5 separate regions of the Homo sapiens genome follow, and regions 2, 3, 4 and 5 are each reported to be linked to region 1. Evidence: microRNA targets listed by miRTarBase, many of them from high-throughput screens and not tested one by one. Region 1 holds a microRNA gene; each other region holds the end of a gene's coding sequence.

What was found. The annotated mature microRNA hsa-miR-4727-5p reads AUCUGCCAGCUUCCACAGUGG and lies in region 1 at 2,346-2,366, opposite strand. An mRNA with a match to its seed (bases 2 to 7 or 8) in the 3' UTR can be bound and repressed. Matches are read on the target gene's strand: a 7mer-m8 pairs with bases 2 to 8, a 7mer-A1 pairs with bases 2 to 7 and ends in A, and an 8mer does both.
Region 2: the mRNA of AGMO is a reported target of hsa-miR-4727-5p. Seed matches in the 3' UTR shown: 7mer-A1 at 2,407-2,413 and 7mer-m8 at 2,227-2,233.
Region 3: miRTarBase lists DCP2 as a target of hsa-miR-4727-5p. Seed matches in the 3' UTR shown: 7mer-m8 at 1,737-1,743.
Region 4: miRTarBase lists TBL3 as a target of hsa-miR-4727-5p. Seed matches in the 3' UTR shown: 7mer-m8 at 2,430-2,436.
Region 5: the mRNA of PLCL1 is a reported target of hsa-miR-4727-5p. Seed matches in the 3' UTR shown: 7mer-m8 at 2,689-2,695.

What each region holds. Positions count from the first base shown.
Region 1 is chr17:38,824,029-38,828,204 of GRCh38, reverse strand. It overlaps MIR4727 (microRNA 4727), which reads right to left and starts at 2,367; the gene lies at 2,313-2,367. CWC25 (CWC25 spliceosome associated protein) reads left to right here and starts at 2,884. Exons shown (of 10, transcript NM_017748.5): 1 at 2,884-3,039. The coding sequence starts at 3,022. RefSeq lists an enhancer at 3,545-4,176.
Region 2 is chr7:15,198,170-15,202,345 of GRCh38, forward strand. AGMO (alkylglycerol monooxygenase) reads right to left here. Exons shown (of 13, transcript NM_001004320.2): 13 at 2,148-3,190. The coding sequence ends at 3,116. Among named protein-coding and RNA genes, the nearest start is that of DGKB, 300 kb to the left of the region's middle.
Region 3 is chr5:113,012,982-113,017,023 of GRCh38, reverse strand. It overlaps DCP2 (decapping mRNA 2), which reads right to left. Exons shown (of 11, transcript NM_152624.6): 11 at 1-3,703. The coding sequence ends at 3,540. Among named protein-coding and RNA genes, the nearest start is that of DCP2, 38 kb to the right of the region's middle.
Region 4 is chr16:1,977,336-1,981,307 of GRCh38, reverse strand. It overlaps TBL3 (transducin beta like 3), which reads right to left. Exons shown (of 22, transcript NM_006453.3): 16 at 3,882-3,952; 17 at 3,638-3,794; 18 at 3,508-3,566; 19 at 3,247-3,350; 20 at 3,088-3,159; 21 at 2,837-2,995; 22 at 1-2,756. The coding sequence ends at 2,623. NOXO1 (NADPH oxidase organizer 1) reads left to right here. Exons shown (of 8, transcript NM_172167.3): 1 at 1-194; 2 at 289-369; 3 at 577-652; 4 at 764-941; 5 at 1,127-1,311; 6 at 1,405-1,518; 7 at 1,766-1,883; 8 at 1,959-2,391. The coding sequence starts at 129. The coding sequence ends at 2,256. Among named protein-coding and RNA genes, the nearest start is that of NOXO1, 2.1 kb to the left of the region's middle. RefSeq lists enhancers at 399-978, 979-1,556, 1,557-2,136, 2,137-2,716, 2,717-3,296 and silencers at 786-1,080, 1,873-1,992.
Region 5 is chr2:198,145,752-198,149,927 of GRCh38, reverse strand. PLCL1 (phospholipase C like 1 (inactive)) reads right to left here. Exons shown (of 6, transcript NM_006226.4): 6 at 65-3,148. The coding sequence ends at 2,966. Among named protein-coding and RNA genes, the nearest start is that of LINC01923, 230 kb to the left of the region's middle.

The DNA of each region.
Region 1 (4,176 bases):
TTAAATTAATTAATTAATTAAGTTTGAGGTGGAGTCTGGCTCTGTCACCCAGGCTGGAGTACAGTGGTGCAATCTCAGCTCACTGCAACCTCTGCCTCCTGGGTTCAAACGATTCTCCTGCCTAGCCTCCTAAGTACCTGGGATTACAGGCGTGCACTGCTACGCCCAGCTAATTTTTTTGTATTTTTAGTAGAGACGGGGTTTCGCCATGTTGGCCAGACTGGTCTTGGATTCCTGACCTCAGGTGATCCACCTGTCTTGGCCTCTCAAAGTGCTGGGATTACAGGCGTGAGCCACTGCGCCCGGCCCTCTTTTATTTTTTGAAACAGGGTCTCGCTCTGTTGCCCAGGCTGGAGTGCAGTGGTATGATCTTGGATCACTGCAACCTCTGCCTCCTGGGCTCAGGCAGTCTCTCACCTCAGCCTCCTGAGTAGCTGGGACTACAGGCACATGCCACTATGTCCTGCTAATTTTTGTATTTTTTGAGAAACAGGGTTCTACCACGTTACCCAGGCTGGTCTCCAACTCCTGGGCTCAAGTGATCCACCTGCCTCGGCCTCCCAAAGTGCTGGGACTACAGCAGTGAGCCTGCTTTTCTTTTAAGTAAACTTTATTCAAATACATTTAAGTAAATATTTAATAGGTATTTTGTTTGTTTCTTTTCTTTTTTTTTTTTTCTGAGACAGAGTTTTGCTCTTGTTGCCCAGGCTGGAGTGCAATGGCGCTATCTTGGCTCACCACAACCTCTGCCTCCTGGGTTCAAGTGATTCTCCTGCCTCAGCCTCCAGAGTAGCTGGGATTACAGGCATGTGCCACCACGCCCGGCTAATTTTGTATTTTTAGTAGAGACGGGGTTTCTCTATGTTGGTCAGGCTGGTCTCAAACTCCCAACCTCAGATGATCTGCCCGCCTCAGCCTCCCAAAAGTGCTGGGATTACACGCGTGAGCCACCGAGCCCAGCCTGTTTCTTTCTTTCTTTCTGTTTTTTTTGAGACAAAGTCTCACTCTTGTCGCCCAGGCTATAGTGCAGTGGTGCCATCTTGGCTCACAGCAACCTCCACCTCCTAGGGTCAAGTGATTCTCTTGTGTCAGCCTCCCAAGTAGCTGGGATTACAGGCACCCGCCACCACGCCCGGCTAATTTTTGTATTTTTAGTAGGATGGGGTTTTTCCATGTTGGCCAGGCTGGTCTCAAACTCCCAACATCAGGTGATCCACCCACCTGCCTCGGCCTCCCAAAGTGCTGGGATTACAGGAGTGAGCCACCGCGCCCGGGCAATAAGTATTTTTAAAAAGCCATAAGAACTAATAAGTGAATTTAGCAAGCCTGTAAAATAGAAGGTTACTATACAAAAGCACGTTCTTATCTATTAGTAGCAAACAATTGGAAAATTAAAATTTTTAAATTTTATTTAAAATAGCATCACAGGCCGGGTGCCTGTAATCCTTGCATTTTGGGAGGCCAAGGTAGGCGGATCACCTGAGGTCAGGGGTTCCAGACCAGCCTGGCCAACACGGTGAAATCCCATCTTTACTACAAACACAAAAATCAGTAGGTCGTGGTGGCGTATGCCTGTAATCCCAGCTACTCGGGAGGCTGAGGCAGGAGAATCGCTTGAACCCAGGAGGCGGAGGTTGCAGTGAGCTGGTATTGCGCCACTGTACTCCAGCCTGGGCAACAGAGTGAGATTCCGTCTCGAAATAAATAAATAAATAAATAAATAAATAAATAAATAAATAAATAAATAAATAAATAAAATAGCATCACAAAAAATACAACATTTAGAATAAATTTAACAAAAGATGTGCAAAACTTCTATTCTGAAAATTACAAAACAGGTCGGGCGCAGTGGCTCACACCTGTAATCCCAGCACTTTAGGAGGCCGAGGTAGGAGGATTGCTTGAGTCCAGGAGTTTGAGACAAGCCTGGGTAAGATGGCAAAACCCTGTTGCTACAAAAATAAAAATAGCCAGGCGCGGTGGCTTATGTCTGTAATCCCAACACTTTGGGAGGCTGAGGCGGGGAGATCACTTGAGGTCGAAATTCGAGACAAGCCTGAGCAACATGGTGAAACCCTGTCTCTACAAAAAATACAAAAATTAGCCGGGCGGGTGGCGGGCGCCTGTAATCCCAGCGACTTGGGAGGCTGAGGCAGGAGAATTGCTGTCCGGGAGGCGGAGGTTGCAGTCAGCTTCGACCGCAGCCTGGGAGAGCAAAACTCCTTCTCAAAAAACAAAAACAAAGGGAGAAGAAGAAAAAGAAAAAGAAAAAAGAAAAACATGCCAAAAACACATAGTAACTGAAGGGAAAGGAATCTGCCAGCTTCCCACTATGGGAAAATCTGCCACTGTGGAAGCTGGCAGATTTTAAAAGTTTGGCAAACGGAAGCTGATGGAATTTCGATTTGATGGTTTCTATTTAGCTTCGTAAAATAGGCCTGGCATAAGGGGATTTGCTGTGAGTCAAGGTCTGAGGAAAGCGCCAGTTTGCAAAGCCGTTTTGGAAAACTGGAGCGTGGGGGTGTGTGCAGGGTGAGGGGAGGAGGCCTAGTCTGGTCCACCTTAGGTCTAGCAGAGACTACGTGGAGCTTTGAGCCGAATGCCCTGGTGAGCTGCCATGGCAACACAGCCGTGGGCACAGGCCCACGGCAACCCATCACTGAACAGAGTTGTGGCGTTTCAACAGAGAGTCTGGGACATCAGGCAACGTGGCGACCCGAAGCAGCCAAAATGAGACCTCGACAGCAAAGGCCTCGACAGCGGAGCCCGGACCTTTGCAAAATCTGCAAGTAACGCCAACGTCACAAAGCGCGACCGAGCCCTGTACGTCATCGTTCCGCGACGCCGACGCGGTGAGATGACGCCCTCCCGGAAGTGACCTCTAGAGCGGTGGTGAAACTGGCAGTTGACGGCTCCTGGGACTAGATCCCGCGAGGTAGCCCCCGAACTATTTCTCTACGTTTTCTCTTGATCCTCCCGAAATCTTCCAGATCCGCGTAGTGAGGAATCGTCTCCACCGTCATGGGGGGCGGAGACCTGGTGAGTGGAGGGAGGCCTGGGCGGGGGAGGACTGAGGCCGGGACGGAAATTGGCAGGGGGTGGGGGTAGAGGAAGGAGTGGATAACCATGGCAACGCAGCTTTGCTTTCGCCGGGAGGAGGCCGTTGCCCTGAAGAGGGGATGGATCCTTAGGGCAATGGAGGGGTGGGACTGAGATTTGGGAAAGTCCGAGGTGTGTCGCGAACAGTGACAGGTGGTGTTTGCGTGTTTGTTGACTGCGGCTCTACCGGCTGTAAATTCTGGGAAGACCGGGGAGGGGGCGGATGGAGCCATGGCTAGGAAAGGAGGTAGATATGGAGGACGTGTCACCACACTTTGTTTTGTATATCTTGTCTTGCCACACACCTCTCTTCCTTGGGTGAGAGTTCAGAGTCATGTCCTGGACTGAAGTAGGGGTGGTTTGTGCCCCATTCTCCCTACCCTAAGCCATGCCCTGGGGTCGTTTTTTATTTTTTATTTTTTTGAGACGGAGTTTCTTGTTGCCCAGGCTGGAGTGCCATGGCGCGATCTCGGCTGACCGCAACCTTTCCCTCCTGGGTTCAAGCGATTCTCCTGCCTCAGCCTCCCGAGTAGCTGGGATTACAGGCATGCGCCACCACACCCGGCTAATTTTGTATTTTTAGTAGAGACAGGGTTTCTCCATGTTGGTCAGGCTGGTCTCGATCTGCCGACCTCAAGTGATCCGCCCGCCTCGGCCTCCCAGAGTGCTAGGATTACAAGGGTTAGCCACAGCGCCCGGCCCTGGGGTCCTTTTTAAGCCTGAAGGGATCTTCCTGTCCATCTTTCTGACTTCCACACCTCCTTCAGTGCTGGATTCTGATCTGTAGTGGCAGAGCTTGCTTTTGAATTCATACCACTTAATATAAGTTATGTGGCAATGTCTCTTAAACTGAAACGTTCATTTGTAAAGCGCTAAGGCCCCAAATAGGGTAAATGTACCCACAAGAGCATGGGGCAAGGTTGGGAAAATGCTAGCCTCCGGAAAGTGGAGCTAATTGAACCAGCAAGTAGATCAGCTTAGCCGCCTGCCCAGTAAACCTATTAGTTTGTCATGTGTTCTCAATCACAGTGAGTGCCAGGACTCCATCTAGTTTCATCCAATTTAGTGTATTCTTCA
Region 2 (4,176 bases), not on the chromosome of region 1:
GACGAGTCCTATTTTTAGGGCTTTCCCGAGAGAGAGAGAGAGAGAGAGAGAGAGAGAGAGAGAGAGAGAGAGAGAGAGAGAGAGAGACAGAGACAGAGAGAGAGTGTGTTAAAGTCCTTCCAGTAAGCATACATTACATGGTATCACTCAAGATCAATTTACAACATTAATAATAGCTGTATGTTCTGTCATCATGTATTAGTGCTCTGCAAAAGAAAACTGGACTGGAAAATTAGCAGGGTTAAAGAATAAAGTGAAGAATAAAGTGCCTTGGTTAATAATGCACAGAGGCCCTAGAAATGTAATCGCCCAATGGGTTCATTGCCTGCTGCCAGGACAGAGCCGATTTATCAAGACAGGGAAATTGTAATAGAGAAAGAGTTCAATTCATGCAGAGCCAGCTGAATAGGAGACTGGAGTTTTATTATTACTCAAATCAGTCTCCCTGAAAATTCGGAGACTGGGTTTTTTAAGGATAATTTGGTGGGTAGGGGGCCAGGGAATGGAGAGTGCTCACTGATCAGGTCAGAGATAAAAATCAAAGAGCCTTGAAGCTATTCTTGGCTGAGTCAGTTCTTGGGTGGGGGCCACAAGACCAGATGAGTCAGTTTATCCATCTGGGTGGTGCCAGCTGATCCATGGAGTGCAGGAGCTGAAAAATATCTCCAACACCAATCTGAGGTTTCACAATAATGATGTTATCCCTAGGAGCAACTGGGGAGAGTTCGAATCTTGTAGCCTCTAGCTGTATGACTCCTAAGCCTATTTTCTAATCTTGTGGCTAATTTGTTAGTCCCACAAAGGCAGCCTTGTCCCCAGGCAAGAAGGGGGTTTGTTTTAAGAAAGTGCCGTTATCATTTTTGTTTCAAAGGCAAACTATAAACTAAGTTCCTACCAAAGTTAGCTCAGCCTGTGCCCAGGAATAAACAAGGACACCTTGGAGGTTAGAAGCAAGATGGAGTCTGTTAGGTCAGATTTCTCATTGTCTTAATTTTTTCACTGTTATAATTTTTGTATAGGAGGTGTCTGGAACATTACCTGTCTGGTAACCACTCCCACTTTCATTGGCACAAATTTGTATCTTGAAAATATCTGTATTTCTAATAGAAAACCATTCACAATCACAGTGAGGTAAACCCAAGAGAGAAGAGAGAGAATAGACAGAATTCAATTTACTCAAAGAAAACTGAACTTCACCACAAAAGGATCTTTTCTCATTTGGGGGAATTATTTATTAACATTTCTATTATTAAACTCATTTTTAGGCTAATCCTATAAATTCACATATATTAAAGCATATACACATATTTATGTATCATTCCTTGGGGAATCATTAAGCTCTTCTGACATACTAAACAACTATGTAAAGATTAGCAAAAAGTCTCTTTTCTTTGCCATTACTGAAGAATGTGTTTTACCCACTGAAAAGTCTCTAGAATGTAGAATCAGGGTCTTGAGAATGTTTATGCCTTAAATTTCCTAATTTCAAGCCAGCAGAGGGCTCCCTACTGTAACATGATTCTGTATATGTATACAAAATTCTGTGAAAATTGTTGTTAAGGGACAAAAGCAGGATTCAATATATGTTATAGGCTTACGTATTGTCTATAACTATGTGTTAAATTAAGAAGTATAAAAAGAATGAAGCAAAGCCAAACCCACTTCTGATACTTGAGATAGAATGTGTTGCTTTTTCATCATGCAAAATTTAATCTTCCTCTGCTGTTCCAGTTTGAAAACTAAATATGCTTCAATTCTGTATCCTCAGTTCACATAGACACCTGCAGTCTGATTCTCTTAATACTCTATATTTTTGTCCATTCAAAGATTAAATAATGTATTGCTAATATGAGATTATCTAAGTCAGGCTCCTTAACCCAGTGATACATAGGCAAAGCTCAATGAAGAACAGCATTAGTTTTTTTTAGTACATGTGTCTTTGATTATTTAAATTATTAAATTTTATTATTAAATTATTAAATTTTAACTTGATTTCAAGAAATATTGGATAAATGAAAAATAAAGATTTTTTTTTTAACTTTTTCCAGTTCTCATTCTTTGGACTTCATCCTGCTTATCCCTGTCAGTTCCCTCCTAACGAAACACTTGGTGGATTTTTACAATCCCAATGAACAATGTACACACAACACCTTGGGTAATTTTATTTAGAGAATTAACATTGTTCTGATAACTTTAAATAATGCAGAATTGCTGCATGCTGCCCAGTCTGCCAAAACAAATTGACCAAGCATATTAGAGAAATGTATGACAAAGTAACCTGTTGAAAAAACTAATTCTGACAAATTCTGTTCATTTTTCTTTCAGTGATGTCTTTTTTCTTTGAGACGGAGTCTCGCTCTGTCGCCCAGGCTGGAGTGCAGTGGTGCAATCTCCACTCACTCCAACTTCTGCCTCCCAGGTTCAAGCGATTCTCCTGCCTCAGCCTCCAGAGTAGCTGGGACTACAGGCGCACACCACCATGTCCAGCTAAATTTTTATATTTTTAGTAGAGACAGGACTTCACCATGTTGGCCAGGATGGTCTCTATCTCTGGACCTCATGATCCGCCCACCTCAGCCCCACAAAGTGCTGGGATTACAGGGGTGAGCCACCGCGCCTGGCCTCAGTGATGTCTTTTTCTGGAATGCAGCTTCTTAGGTTATATGGATTGCAAAGGTAACTGTGGCCTTAGGAAGACAACCAATGTAATACATTTTTATGACTACAAACATGTATCTATGCATAATTTTAGCAAACATCAAAGGAAACATTGTTTTCAAATTGATGTAAAGGCAATATTCCTTCTTGTTTTTACTGTTTTTAAGTTTCATCCCTTCTTTTTATACTTGTCATATAAGGCTATCAGTTAATATAACATCATTATATTTGAAATCTTTTTTTAATTGTAGTAAAGGGGGGAAGTAACCAAAACTGACTTTAATTTTTAATAGAAAATAACAAATGTGAAAGGCAAACAATAGTAAATAAGTAATTTTACTTTTCATTGAAGAAATAGTTCATATAAGCATTACATAAAATAATTACATTTTAATATGCAGTCATAATATGCGTGTGGACAACTCATTAAAAGAAGAGAATTATGTACAAATTCAGGTTATTTCCAAGGGTGAGAGGTGAGTTGTTTCATGCTTCTAACTCCCCAGAAAGCAATGCAAATGGAAAAAACAATCTGAAGAAATAAAACACAAAGAGAAAAAAAAATTAGAAGTGAATCAATACTATTGCTCAACTGAATTAAAAATATTTCCCTAGAGGAAAATGAACATGGACATTTTAGGGAGTCAAGTTATTAAATTAAATCTAGCAATTGTTCACTGATAGAACTTAGCCAATTTAACTTAAAACATGGTGTGTGAAGACAGGAGCAGGAGTTAAGAAGTTTTATTTCTGTGGCTTGTTTCTTATATTCACAAATCTGGGTCATTTCAAGGAATGAGGCTAGACAAGTTAGATATTCAGACATTTCTTCTGACATTTGGAGATACAGCATGCTGTATGCATTATACTAGATGATCTAATTGCTTATATAGGTTAAGAAACCTTTGGAATAGGAGAAGTAAAAACACTGTTAAAGAATCCCTCCAAGTCAGTATGATCTAGCTTACTATGAATTTCGCCCAACGTGAATTAAATTCTAAACACTGCTGATGATTTACCTCCTCAGTCTTTTGATTTTATCAGGTGTAAAAATGTAACTGCAAATTTCTTTCACACTGAAGACTTAACTGAATCATATTAAGCAGCCTGAAAATTTCATTGAGTTTGTTCAATCCAGGCTCTGGTCATGGTCTTTGCACCATCAGATTTCCCAAAAGTAAACACTTCCCTATGCTCTTACCTAGGCACCGACAATTAAAACTATAGGATTGCTTTCCTGATCACCATTTTAGGTGGTTGGGTAACTGGAATGATGATGAAAGCAAACAATGCCAAAACAACCAGAGTTATTGGGATAGCTGTGCAGGAGTTTCTCTATATTTTTCATGTATGTGTATACTTCCCCTCCATACTATTAAAATAGGACCAGATGCCTCTCCCCAAGAAGAATATCACTATACCTGGAAGATTCACTGAAATATACAAAGAGAGAACATTTAATTAAGAAGATGAAGGCATGGGAGCATTCTGGTGTGGGGAACTCCGGTGAAGTCAAGA
Region 3 (4,042 bases), not on the chromosome of region 1:
ACTAAAAAGACAGAATTAGCAGGGCGTGGTGGCGCATGCCTGTAATCCCAGCTACTTGGGAGGCTGAGGCAGGAGAATCACTTGAACCCGGGAGGCGTAGGTTGCGGTGAGCCGAAATTGCACCATTGCACTCCAGCCTGGGCAACAGGAGTGAAACTCCATCTCAAAAAAAAAAAAAAAAAAGCCAAGAGGGTATTGTGGTAAGAAAACTAACTTGGCAAAATGTCTAATTTTTATAATTAACTTTGCTCTCCTTACCATTTAACTGTTGGAGATGAAAAAAGAAAGGATGAGAAGTCCATGAGAGAATAGGTAGTGAAATGTTTTTAATGCACACATGCACTCAGACCTTAACTTTTCTATAGGATACAATATGGTGACTTTTATAGAAGAATCTAATTCCTATAGTAGGAGGCTGTTATTTACTCAGATTTGAATTCCTTTTATTTGACATTACATACAAATTACTAAAGCCTTAATAAGGAAAAGTACCAATTCAATCTTACAGCATAAAATTACTTTCATTATATGTCTTCATTAGCTATACTTACTAATTGATATTTAATAGAAAAATAACGATATTCAAAGCTCAGAACAGCAAGTAGTAACCACAATTCCTTTGACAGCACTGGGAGACTTTCCTTTATACATGAATACAAAAATCCAACTTCATTTTCCAACATCTTTAATCAAATTTCACTCACACTATATGAGTTCTATTAGGTTCTCAGGCCTCTCCAAATGCTCATGTCTCAGGAGGGTATCACTATTTGAAATCCTAAACCATTCATTTGCTACTTCTTAACAAAAATTTTTGAAAAGCATGTAAACCACACCCTTATCTTTTGGATTACAATGGTTAGGTACAAAAACAATTCATTTAGCATCTTATAAATCATTAAAGTTATACATAAAAGCACCTACAAATTTTTTTAAAAATAAAAGATTCACAGTGCACTGCACCTTGGAACATATAAGGTTGGAACGTAACATTTAAAAAGTGAATTCCAAGACCTGTATCTCTCTCAAAGACATAAAACATAATGAAGCAAAACCAACTACTCTTCTCATCTAGCATCTTAAAATGCAGCACTCAGTAGAAGTAAATGATTGCATATTCAGCATACTCCTTTATCACTTGATTTCCTCAAACCATACTAAAATTTCTCAAAGGAGAAATCCAGTTCGCTAAGCATGGCCTTTCTCAAGGTAACCTGAACACTGAGAAACTATTACCCAGGTTTGAGAGAATAAGTATAGTAGATGTACCTAAAACAAGTACATCCAACTTAAATATTTTCTGCATAGTTAAGTCACATCACACACATAAACTTTAACTCACATCTTTTAACATTTTTTTAACCTCAAACTTTGAGGAGAGCTAAAAGCCTGAAGTTATCATAATCACACCCCAACAGTACCCTTATATTTTGTTCCACAGTGCATTAAATAAAGCAGCGCAACAGCAGTAACATTTAACCATAGTTAAACTACTGTAATCACAAAGATAATTTGTTGGTTCTTGAAAAGGCTCAACACCATTAGAGGCCATACTTCTGGTAACTATAATCTCTTTTGCTTCAGTATTGAGAGCTGAAAAATCCAACTCTACAGGCACCAGGAAGACTGGCCAAAGTATGCACTTAAAAAGAAAAAAAAAAACACATACCAAAAAAATAAAAAACAGTAAAAGTTAAATGGTTTCCAGAAGACAATAAATGAGTGAAAATTATTCATCTGCCAGGCAAACTACATTTTCACTCCTTTAACAATTTACCAGAAGTCTGGAATGCTGGGACCAACTATAAATATGGCTCGAAGAGACCCAAGCAAAGCAGCCGTATTTCTGAAAAGAACAGTAAAAGCTTCCAAACACAATCATATAATGCATTAAAAAGCAAAAGTCACAGGATTCAAAAATTTGTCACATTAAAAGATGCAGGATTCTGAATATCATAATTCTATACACACTGCTTTAATTGTGAATTCTCCTGCTTAGCACCAAAAGGGTGACACTTTCATTAATAAATAGAATTTCTCCTTTAAAATCAAGCCATTTAAAAGCTAAAGCAAAGTACTACCAAGTGAATTCCTTAAATAGCCCTTCTTTTAAAAGTCCCATGAGGTTCAGTGGAACCCAATTAAATAGGCTACCTACACAGAATAAAGATTTCTACAATAACATTTATAAGCAGAGAAGTATTTTGTGGATACCACTGTAAAAAAGGATTTTTAAAACCCACATGATAGTTACACACACACACATATACTCAAACACCCCCGACTCCCAAGAAATTCCTTCAATGAGGTCAGATGCAGCCAAAACACTAAAGCCCCCTTAACGCCCTGGTGATTGTCCTCAGTTATAGCTGAAATCCTCCTTAAAATGGGCACTGCCATCCTTATTTGAATTTAAAAATCCTGAAGCAAAATACATTCCTAGGAGTGAGTTATGTATGTTACTGTTATGTAACACATATACATAACGTGTAACCTAGTGAAATGCTTTATTTGGACTTGGGTAAACTGCATACCCCTTCCCTTCTCGCTCCATCATCCAGGGGCTTAGCAGGTCAATAAAAGCATGTCAGTCTCTGCTACTATTGCGAATTGGAACCTAATGTAACATCAGTTTCCAAAGATCAATACTGGAGATGCAACGTAAAACCTAGTAATATCAGTTTTCCATACATATTTACACAACTGGAATACAGAAGAAATTTCCACAAGAACAAAAGTCTACGAGACTAAAGGGTTGGAGGCAGGACAGTAAAGACATGACCCAAAGTAGCTGCTGGGTCCCAGCCTCCATGCTGTCTGCTACATTTCCTCCAGCAGTCTCACAGGTTTACTGACTGCATGTAACCACAGCTCAAAATCACAGCATCAGCTCCCATCCACTCAAGCCCCTCCAGGCTACAGACTTTGTCCTTTTGAAGCGCTGAGTTCATTTTGGACATGCACATTATATTCCAGAAGCTGCTCAATAAATCCTTTCACTAAAACTCCAGAGGAAGATTAGAGAGCCTCAGTGGTTAGAAGCAGAGAGAAGTACAAAATGCCACCAAAATAGATCACCTGTAATGCTGACGAATGTGACATCTCAGCTCTTGTGTTCATTTAATAATTGGGCATTACTTTAAGTTTCTTTGAAAAACTCCAATATACTATTATTGCAATCACTGTAACAGGTAGATGGAGCATTCCCATTAACTTGGCTACTTGACAGTAACTCAATACATTATTTTCTTAACCAGAATACAAAATAAAACCCACAGTCACACAGAATAAATGCCCTCAAAGAAAGCAACTTAAACTTGTACTGAACACTGAAAAGGTAAATCTGTATAAAAGGTTATAACTGCATTTACAGTGCAAACTCGTGTTTCTTTCTACTCTCTTATAAACAGAAAATGTCTTCAGAAACATTGCCTCCCTGCATTTCTTTAAAACACCTGAGAAAGGTAAGGCTTGAGGAGACACCCACTCAAATTCAACAGGTCTCTGATCCTGGGACATTTACAATACATGTGCTGCTATCAAAGGTCCAAGATTTTCATTATAGCATTATGGTCAAACTTGAAACTCAAAAAGGCTCTGGATGAAAAGGGGAACTTGCAATGTCCATTACATGCCACGGGCTGTCCCTCAGCATGTTCTAGCAACTGGTCTTCACTGGAGCTAGGCAAGTCATATACAGCATCTGTTTAAAGAAAAAACAAAATAAATAAGCTCAGTAACCTTAGTAAGAAATCAAATACTGCCCTTTGCCTTTTGTTACAAAACAATTAGTTTTGAGTATATATTTATCTTCCCAGACTCTAACCCTAAACAGAACCACCAAAATATGTATTTTCCTTTCCATAAACTGGTGGTCAACTGCATTTTCAATCTATTATTATTTCCACATATTCAAAATCTTAATCTCAGCCATTAAGACCCTTGACATTCCTTTGCTTTCAAAATGAGCGTAACTTTACCTCCTGTATGTGCTTTACCTATTTTATGTGCATTCTGTTACAGAAAAATAAAGCTGGGGTTT
Region 4 (3,972 bases), not on the chromosome of region 1:
CACAGGCTTGAGGTGTTGCCAGGATTCTATCCCAGGGGGTTTTCTGGGTCCCCCAGAGCCCTCTCAAGCACGGGGAGGCAGAAGGGTCCTCGCCCATTTCAGGAATCTGCAGCCTGGAAGCCACAGCCATGGCAGGCCCCCGATACCCAGTTTCAGTGCAAGGGGCAGCCCTGGTGCAGATCAAGAGGCTCCAAGTAAGACCTGGCTGGGTCCTTAGTGGCCCCAAGGGATAGGAAGGGGGTGCCTGGACCAGCACCTCCACGGCACTCCCAACTTTTTGTCCCCCAGACGTTTGCCTTCTCTGTGCGCTGGTCAGACGGCAGCGACACCTTCGTGCGCAGGAGTTGGGACGAATTCAGGCAGCTCAAGGTGAGTGACCCTGGGCCACCCTGATGCCGCGGTGGCGGCTTCCCCACGCGGCTGCCTCCCACTGGACTGCCTCCCATCAGTGACTCCCACTGGAGGCCCTTCGTCCCTGCTGAAGCTCCCAGCCCCTGCCATCCGGGTGAGGGACCCCGCCCTCTCAAGGGTGCACAGTGGGCTCTGGAAGACCAATGCCCTGGTTCCCGCCCTCAGAAGACCCTCAAGGAGACCTTCCCGGTGGAGGCGGGCCTGCTGCGGAGATCTGACCGCGTTCTCCCAAAGCTTCTCGGTCAGGCCAGCCTGGGTACGGGAGCGGGGAAGGCGGTGGCTTGCCTGGGGGCGCCAGGGACCAGTGAAGCCCAAAGCGGCGTATCACAGTACGTTTTTGTGGTGCCTTAAGATGCACCACTGTTGGGACGCGTGGGGCGCACGAGCCGCGGCCTGGCGCGCCTGCAGCTGTTGGAAACCTATTCTCGGAGGCTGCTGGCGACTGCAGAGCGCGTGGCACGGAGCCCGACGATCACTGGCTTCTTCGCACCGCAACCCCTGGACCTGGAGCCCGCGCTGCCACCCGGCAGGTGCCTGACTCGCCCCAAACTCCCAGCATGCAGCGGCGTTTGGAGCTGGGAGAGGTCCAGGGTGGGGGGGAACAGCCAGCGAATAGGGGCAGAGAGTGGGAGGCTGGCGGTCTTGCCGGGGTGGCGCCCCCAGTTTCACCCTCCCCATCCGCCTACCTCTCACTCGTACGGGCTGCCCTTCCCAGCCGGGTGATCCTGCCCACCCCAGAGGAGCAGCCTCTTTCTCGCGCTGCGGGCCGCCTCTCCATCCACAGTCTGGAGGCTCAGAGCCTGCGCTGCCTGCAGCCCTTCTGTACCCAGGACACGCGGGATAGGCCTTTTCAGGCGCAGGCCCAGGAGAGCCTGGACGTGCTGCTGCGGCACCCCTCAGGTAGGGCCCCCCAAGAACCCAGGGATTTGCTCCTCTGCTCCTGGACCCGAGGGAGCCTCGAGATTTGAGTCCCTGCCCGCTTCTTGCGCACAGGCTGGTGGCTGGTGGAGAACGAAGACCGGCAGACCGCCTGGTTTCCAGCGCCCTACCTGGAGGAGGCGGCCCCGGGCCAAGGCCGGGAGGGAGGCCCGTCCCTAGGGAGCAGCGGTATGCGCCTAACCCCACCCCTCACGCCACCACTGCGGCTTGACCGTGTGGCAAGACTGGGCCAGAAGCACCGCGGGCAGGGCGGGCCAGGAGCCCGTGCTTGGTCTCCGCACCTAGAGGAAGCCCCGAACCGGTCTTAGAGCGGCCCCGCCGTCAGCAGACTCAAGCAAGGAGAATGTGGAGAAGGGTGCGGGCGGGCCTCGTCCTCTGTGGCCCCGCGGTGACTCCAAACACCCACTCCCACCAGGTCCCCAGTTCTGTGCTTCCCGCGCCTACGAGAGCAGCCGCGCAGATGAGCTGTCCGTGCCCGCGGGGGCGCGCGTGCGCGTGTTGGAAACGTCAGACCGCGGCTGGTGGCTATGCAGGTACGCGGGAGCGGGCGTGGGCAGGGCAGGCTAGCCGAGGCGGGCGGGGCCCTAACCACACCCCGCCCCTCGCAGGTACGGCGACCGGGCGGGCCTACTCCCCGCGGTGCTGCTGCGGCCGGAAGGGCTGGGCGCTCTCCTGAGCGGGACGGGGTTCCGTGGAGGAGACGACCCGGCGGGTGAGGCCCGGGGCTTCCCTGAACCCTCCCAGGCCACCGCCCCTCCCCCCACCGTGCCCACCCGACCTTCGCCGGGCGCCATCCAGAGCCGCTGCTGCACCGTCACACGCAGGGCCCTGGAGCGGCGCCCACGGCGCCAGGGCCGCCCTCGAGGGTGCGTGGACTCTGTGCCGCACCCCACGACGGAGCAGTGAGCGCGAGGATCCCGATGAGGGGATGGACCGCGCCATCCCAGGGCTGGGGAGGAGCGGGGAGGGCGGATCTCCCTGGCCAGCAGGGATGGGAGGGGGCCATTTGCTGTTCCTCTGAGTAAAGCTTGTTCTGCATGACCCCCACCGTCTAAGCGTGCGGAGCCGCGGGCTGGATCTCTGCCAGGCCAGGGTGCGGGATGGGCGTGGCAGGGCCGAGACCATCAGCTCCAGTGCCCTTCTGGCTGGCTAGGTAGGGTGTTGGCCAGGGTGGGGGGCTGGACTGCAGTCCAGAGAGACAGAGCCGGCCAGGAGAGCGGCCTTTATGGGTTTTCCAGGGGTTCAGGATGGACTGGAGAGAGGCCGGACCGGCTAGGGCAGTGCGCCTTTATGGGTTTCCCAGGGGGTGGGGGCGGCGGCCGGCACAGGGAGCTTCATGTTGTGCCACAGGAAGTCCAAGAAAGCGGCGGCCTGGAGGGTCCTGCTGAGCCGCTGAAAGTGCCGCTCTGGGGTTGGACAGAGGGAGGTCAGGGGGGTGGTCCACACGCCCACCAGGATCCCCCAACCCCAGGCTGTGCCCACATACCAGTGTAGGGCAGCAGGGCCTCAAGCGCTGCCCGCACGCCTTCGTAGGCCAGCAGCTCCTCGGGGGCCTCTCGCCTCAAGAGCACACCCAGCACGGCCTGGGCCTCGTGGCAGTGCCGCGAGTTGGTGTTCCACGTGACGCAGAAGCGCAGCAGGGCCTCTGTGGGCAACAGGACCCTCATCGTCTTGCCCAGCCAATCTGCCATGACTGGCCCTTGCCCACCGGGCCACCCACCCTGACTGGCCGCCAACCTTTCTGGTCGCGCCGCAGTCGGAGCATGGTGGCTTCCAGCTTCTCGCAGGCCTCAGGGTCCCTCCGGATGGCTGTGGGAGAAGGGAAGGCTGAGCTGGGGAAAGCAGAGCCCAGTGGTCCGAAGACCCAGCCCCTCGCCCCCCGGGGTGGGCACTGACCCTGGATGACAGTCAGCACGGTGTGGGGCCGATCCAGGGAGATGGCCAGGCCCAGCGCCCGCAGGTACCGCTTCTCATGCAGCAGGTTGTCCAGCTCTTGCTGCCTGTGGGGAGGGGAGGAGAGGCCACTGAGGGCCGCTGGCTGGGGCTGCAGGCAGAGCCATCGGAGTCAGCAGGCAGGGAGCCTGGCACTCAGCCTCGTTTTCCCTACAGCACAGAGCAGGGCTGATGCGGGGAGGGGCGCCACTGCCCTGGCCTTACCTGACCACCTGCTCCTCTTGCCTGGCCTGCTCCTCTGCCTGCTCCGCCTCGGTCACATCCTGGGGTTAGACTAGGGTCAGATGGGGCCTCCACTCCACCCCGACTCTTCCCTGCCCTTGGGGCCCACAACCTTCCAGAGGATGACTCGGGAGTCACTGGCCCCAGTGAGGGCGTGGTCGTCCAGCCGGCTGCAGTGCAGCCCCCAGACCTTGTCCTCGTGGGCATCCAGCGTCCGCACACACTCGTTGTTCTTGATGGTCCAGAGCTTCACGAGGCCATCCGAACCGCTGGGTTTGGGGTGGGGAGAGGCTCAGCGTCAGGCAGGTCCCCCCGCCACCCCCCACTCCATCGCTGCCCCACCCCAGCCCACTCACCTGGACAGCAGCTGCGTGCCACGGCTCACAAAGGCCACCTTCAGCACAGAAGCATCGTGCCCCTCAAATGTCTGCAAGGTGGGGGGTAGGG
Region 5 (4,176 bases), not on the chromosome of region 1:
AAATGTTCAATGGCCAAATAAAACACATCATTTTTGGACTAGATTCAGTTCAAATGCTTGGAACTCTAATGTAAATACACATTTATTGACACAGAAAGATATCCATAACATATTGTTAAAATTTTAAACACCCTGCTACAAACAGTTTATATAATATCTCAATTTTGTTAAAATACAAGCATATTTACATATATGTATAAACTCTAAACAGTGTCTAAAGGGATATAAATCAAAATGTTATTAGTGGGTAATTTTGCTTTTCTGTTGTATATAGTTCTCTATTTTTGTATTTTTATATTGACCATTAATATTTTATATTCAGAAAATAAATGATACAGTTCTTTGTATCTGTGGTTATAAAGGTAAGAGTTAATAGTCTGGTTTAAAATGTTAAGAATAAACTTAAAATCAAAATCACTAAGTATATAATCTTGCACATGAAATCAGACAGACCCAAGTTCAAAATCAATTATTCCATTAATTACCTCAGTGGCTTTGGGCTTTCTCACCTGTAAAATGCCAGTGATAATACCCGCCATCTCCACCTCAGATCCTATTGGTGATGTAAAAATGAATAAATAAAAATAGAATTAATATCTAAAACACTACATTCCTAGCATCACCAAATCTAAGTAGATAGAAGAGAGAAGGGGGCTTTTTCTACCACAGTTCAAGTCTAGAAAGGAGACAGATGCTCCTCATAGAATGTAACAATGTCATGGAGGCATAATACACAAAAAAAAATTGTTTGTTTTTGCTATTCTATCTGGAGGCAGGAACATCACAGGAGACTAGGAGACTTTTCCCTTGCCACCTCCACTCCCAGAATCCAAAGCTCCTCCCTGCTCCACATCTCACTCCCCATCTAGCAAGGACACCCAGTGGAATGAAGCAGAGTATGGCTGACAACCCACTGCCAGAAATAGCATCAGATGAGGCAGAATCCATATTACGTTTTTGAGAATTTTTGGGTGGGTCCTAAGTGTGAGTAGAGCTCTGGGACAAATAAAATAAACTAGAGAAGCTACTTCCAAGGATTGGATTTGACCCTGGAGTAAATAAATGTATAAATATTGTTTGAGAGTTTGTCATCCTTTATCTCCTCTTCCCACCTAACTGTATATCCAGTAAAGACATGGATTTACCAAATAGAATTCAAGTAGATGAAGAGGTACACTAGTAAAATCAACCAATCAGCTGATGTAAGGTGGGTTTTGTTTCTGTCTATAGAACCTCTTTTTCACCACAAAGGGCTTAACACCTGCATTCCACTATTCCTCCTACCAGCAAGTTAAATATAACAGAGGGTAAAGAAATTTTTTCAGGCCATTGTAGCATCATTGGAAACTTGCCTTCAAATGACTTCAGGTACCTCCTCCTCGAGTGCCCAGTTTTAAACCCAGGGAATAATTTCATCATATCTGGTCCATGGAAATAGCAAACTCTTTAAGATATTTTTGATGTAGTAACCCATTTTCATTAGCTTTGCTTTTTCAATTCACAATAAAAGAAAACAATAAGTGTTTTTTTCATATCTTTACTCTTTCAGTAATGTGCAACATAAACATAATAGTGTTAAGAAGTCAGAAATAACACAGAAGCTATAGGAGATGTTTATATTTGCAAAATTTCAACAATTATCTTCTCTAGGTTTCCCCAAATTAGCATATTTGTTAATCAAATTAATTAAGAAGCTTTTCAAAATAAAAGCAATGCTTTAAATAAATATATTCTTTCATAACCATAGAACATTTAGTTCTGTTGGAGGTAACAAACATTACACTCAAGTACTTTATGAAGACATTAGGGTAAAAATTACCTAGATGCAATTATAAATGTACCCTAATTAGTCATTTCTTTTTGCATGTATGCTTTTCTGTGTGTGTTAGGGTTATATCATAGATGTGTGGTAACTGGTTAGCTCTTAAATTATCACAAAGATATTATCGGACCCACAGAATTTATATCAGCTCAATGTGATGATATGATATTGTTTGAACAATATCTTTAAATTTAAATTTAGTACCCTAAATTACATCCAAACAAAGCCAACACCTCTAAGCTGCCATATCTGTTATAGAAAATGAGTGCTAGACTCTCAGCTTGGAAGAATGAGACCTTCCTACAAATCTCGAAATTATACAACAATATTATTGTCACATCAAAATCCTAATTGCAACAGAGCTTTCAGTGTGTTTCAGAGTACCACACAGGTAGGTATAAATTCACTTATGATCAGCTTTTCTAGTGAAATCATATGTTTAGTAAATGACTACAGAAAACTTCCTAAAAATTGATTTTATTTAATAAATATTTTTTAAAGTTTTCTGACTGAAGAAATGACCTTGCTAATCTTTTTAGAAATTCTCATCATCTGTTTAATCTTTCATTCACTTTTATTTCTACTCTGATTCTTAGGAATTTTTCTAATCTATATTTAATCTACCAAAACATCTATGCTTTGATAAATTTGGCTTCCTTCAATAATAAGCTATGCTAAGATCACTAAATTAAATGTCAAAGGCAGAGAAGTCAAATTAAACACAGCAACAGGTTACAGTAAGTGCTCTTTAGAATTTCAGATTAAAACAATTGTCCCAAAATGATCAAGGAATAACTCACTAAATGAATAATGCAACACAGAATAGATTTTAACAGAATTTCTCTCTCTCTCTCTCTTTCTCTCTCTCTGCCACACACACACACACACACACACACACACACTCTTCCACAGGCATCCACACAGGGGTGTTGACACATGTCTCAGAATTTAAAACACTGATACTAAAGGCTTTAATTTAGATAAATTAACTACACTGAAATACTGACATTGTGAAAATATCTATGTCCAATACCCCATATAGGGCACCATTTTGTGAACTTATAAAACATTTAAAGAAAGAAAACAAGAATGAGAAACCAGAGTCCTTGATAAGATGGGTGAACGTGTCGATAATGCCCAGAGTCACAGCTTCCCATTCTCCTCACTACTTTCCTTCTCCTCTATGGCTTCCAGGCTGCGCTTGCTCTTGGCCTCAGCACTGCTGCTGGGGGCTTTACTCAGTCCACAGGACAGGCATGCCAGCTGGATCTGCTTCATGTTTTCTATAGCTTCATTCTTGGCATTCTTCAACAGATCTCCTTGGCCCTACAAACAGAAAAAAACAGGCATCAAAGAAGACAGTTATGGGCCAGGCATGTGCTGAGTGACATCACTCTATGTTCTTACTGCCCATTGCTGAATAAGGAAACAGACCCAGACCTGCAAGCTCACTTTTCCAGGGTTTAACCCAAGGTTCTTTTCTAACATTATTAAGTGACTTTGCTTGTTAAGCCAAGTACCTCAACCTGAGCCTGACCAGCTGGCTATGCAATTGCTGGCAGTCCGTTGAGATTCCTATTGTGAGGAATCCTCCTCTTTATGTGCTGAGGACATCAACTCTTCCATCACCATGGTCTGAGACTCTGCACACTGCTGCAATACCTACCCCGCCCAGATCCAGCATTCCTAGTCTTGGGAGAAAACAAGGAAAGAAGCTCTTCCTTAAAGAAGTGAAAATAAAATCTCCCCCTCTGTACAAGAGCTTACAAAGCAAAGTGTCTTCTGTAAAGTAAGTCACATACCCTTATGCTTGGTGAGCTGGTTTTTAATATACTGGGTCATCCTTGCAATCTGCCTGTTGTTAAATTATCAGTCACCCACATTACTTCTGCCTTTTCCATCATCCTGAAGATGATGTTCCCACCTGGCAGATGGAGAAAAAGAGTCTCCAGAGGCAAAACAAAAAGGAAATGAGGATTGCAGGAACACATTAGCTGTCATTTACATCAGTGCCCAACAGAGATCTTTTCCTGCTATTTTTATTTCTTATTTTAGTTCACTGTTATGAAGATAAAGTGCGTATACTGATACTGGCCCAAGGGCTGAATGACTGAGTGTGGGGAAGCAGGGACAGGTGTCTATGGCCCATAGACAGAGGAAGAAGTAGCTTCTTCCCTCTCCTCTCCATTCTCATGGCAGTGCCTGAAAGTGTGACCTTGAAAGGACAATATGGGTGGATATGGGGTTATGACGATTGCTGGAGCATTATTCTACAAAGCAGAGGCTCAGAGAAAGGATAATTTACCTATTTTATGAAAGGCCAGTAAATGCTTTTTCCTTAGGGTGTATGAAGA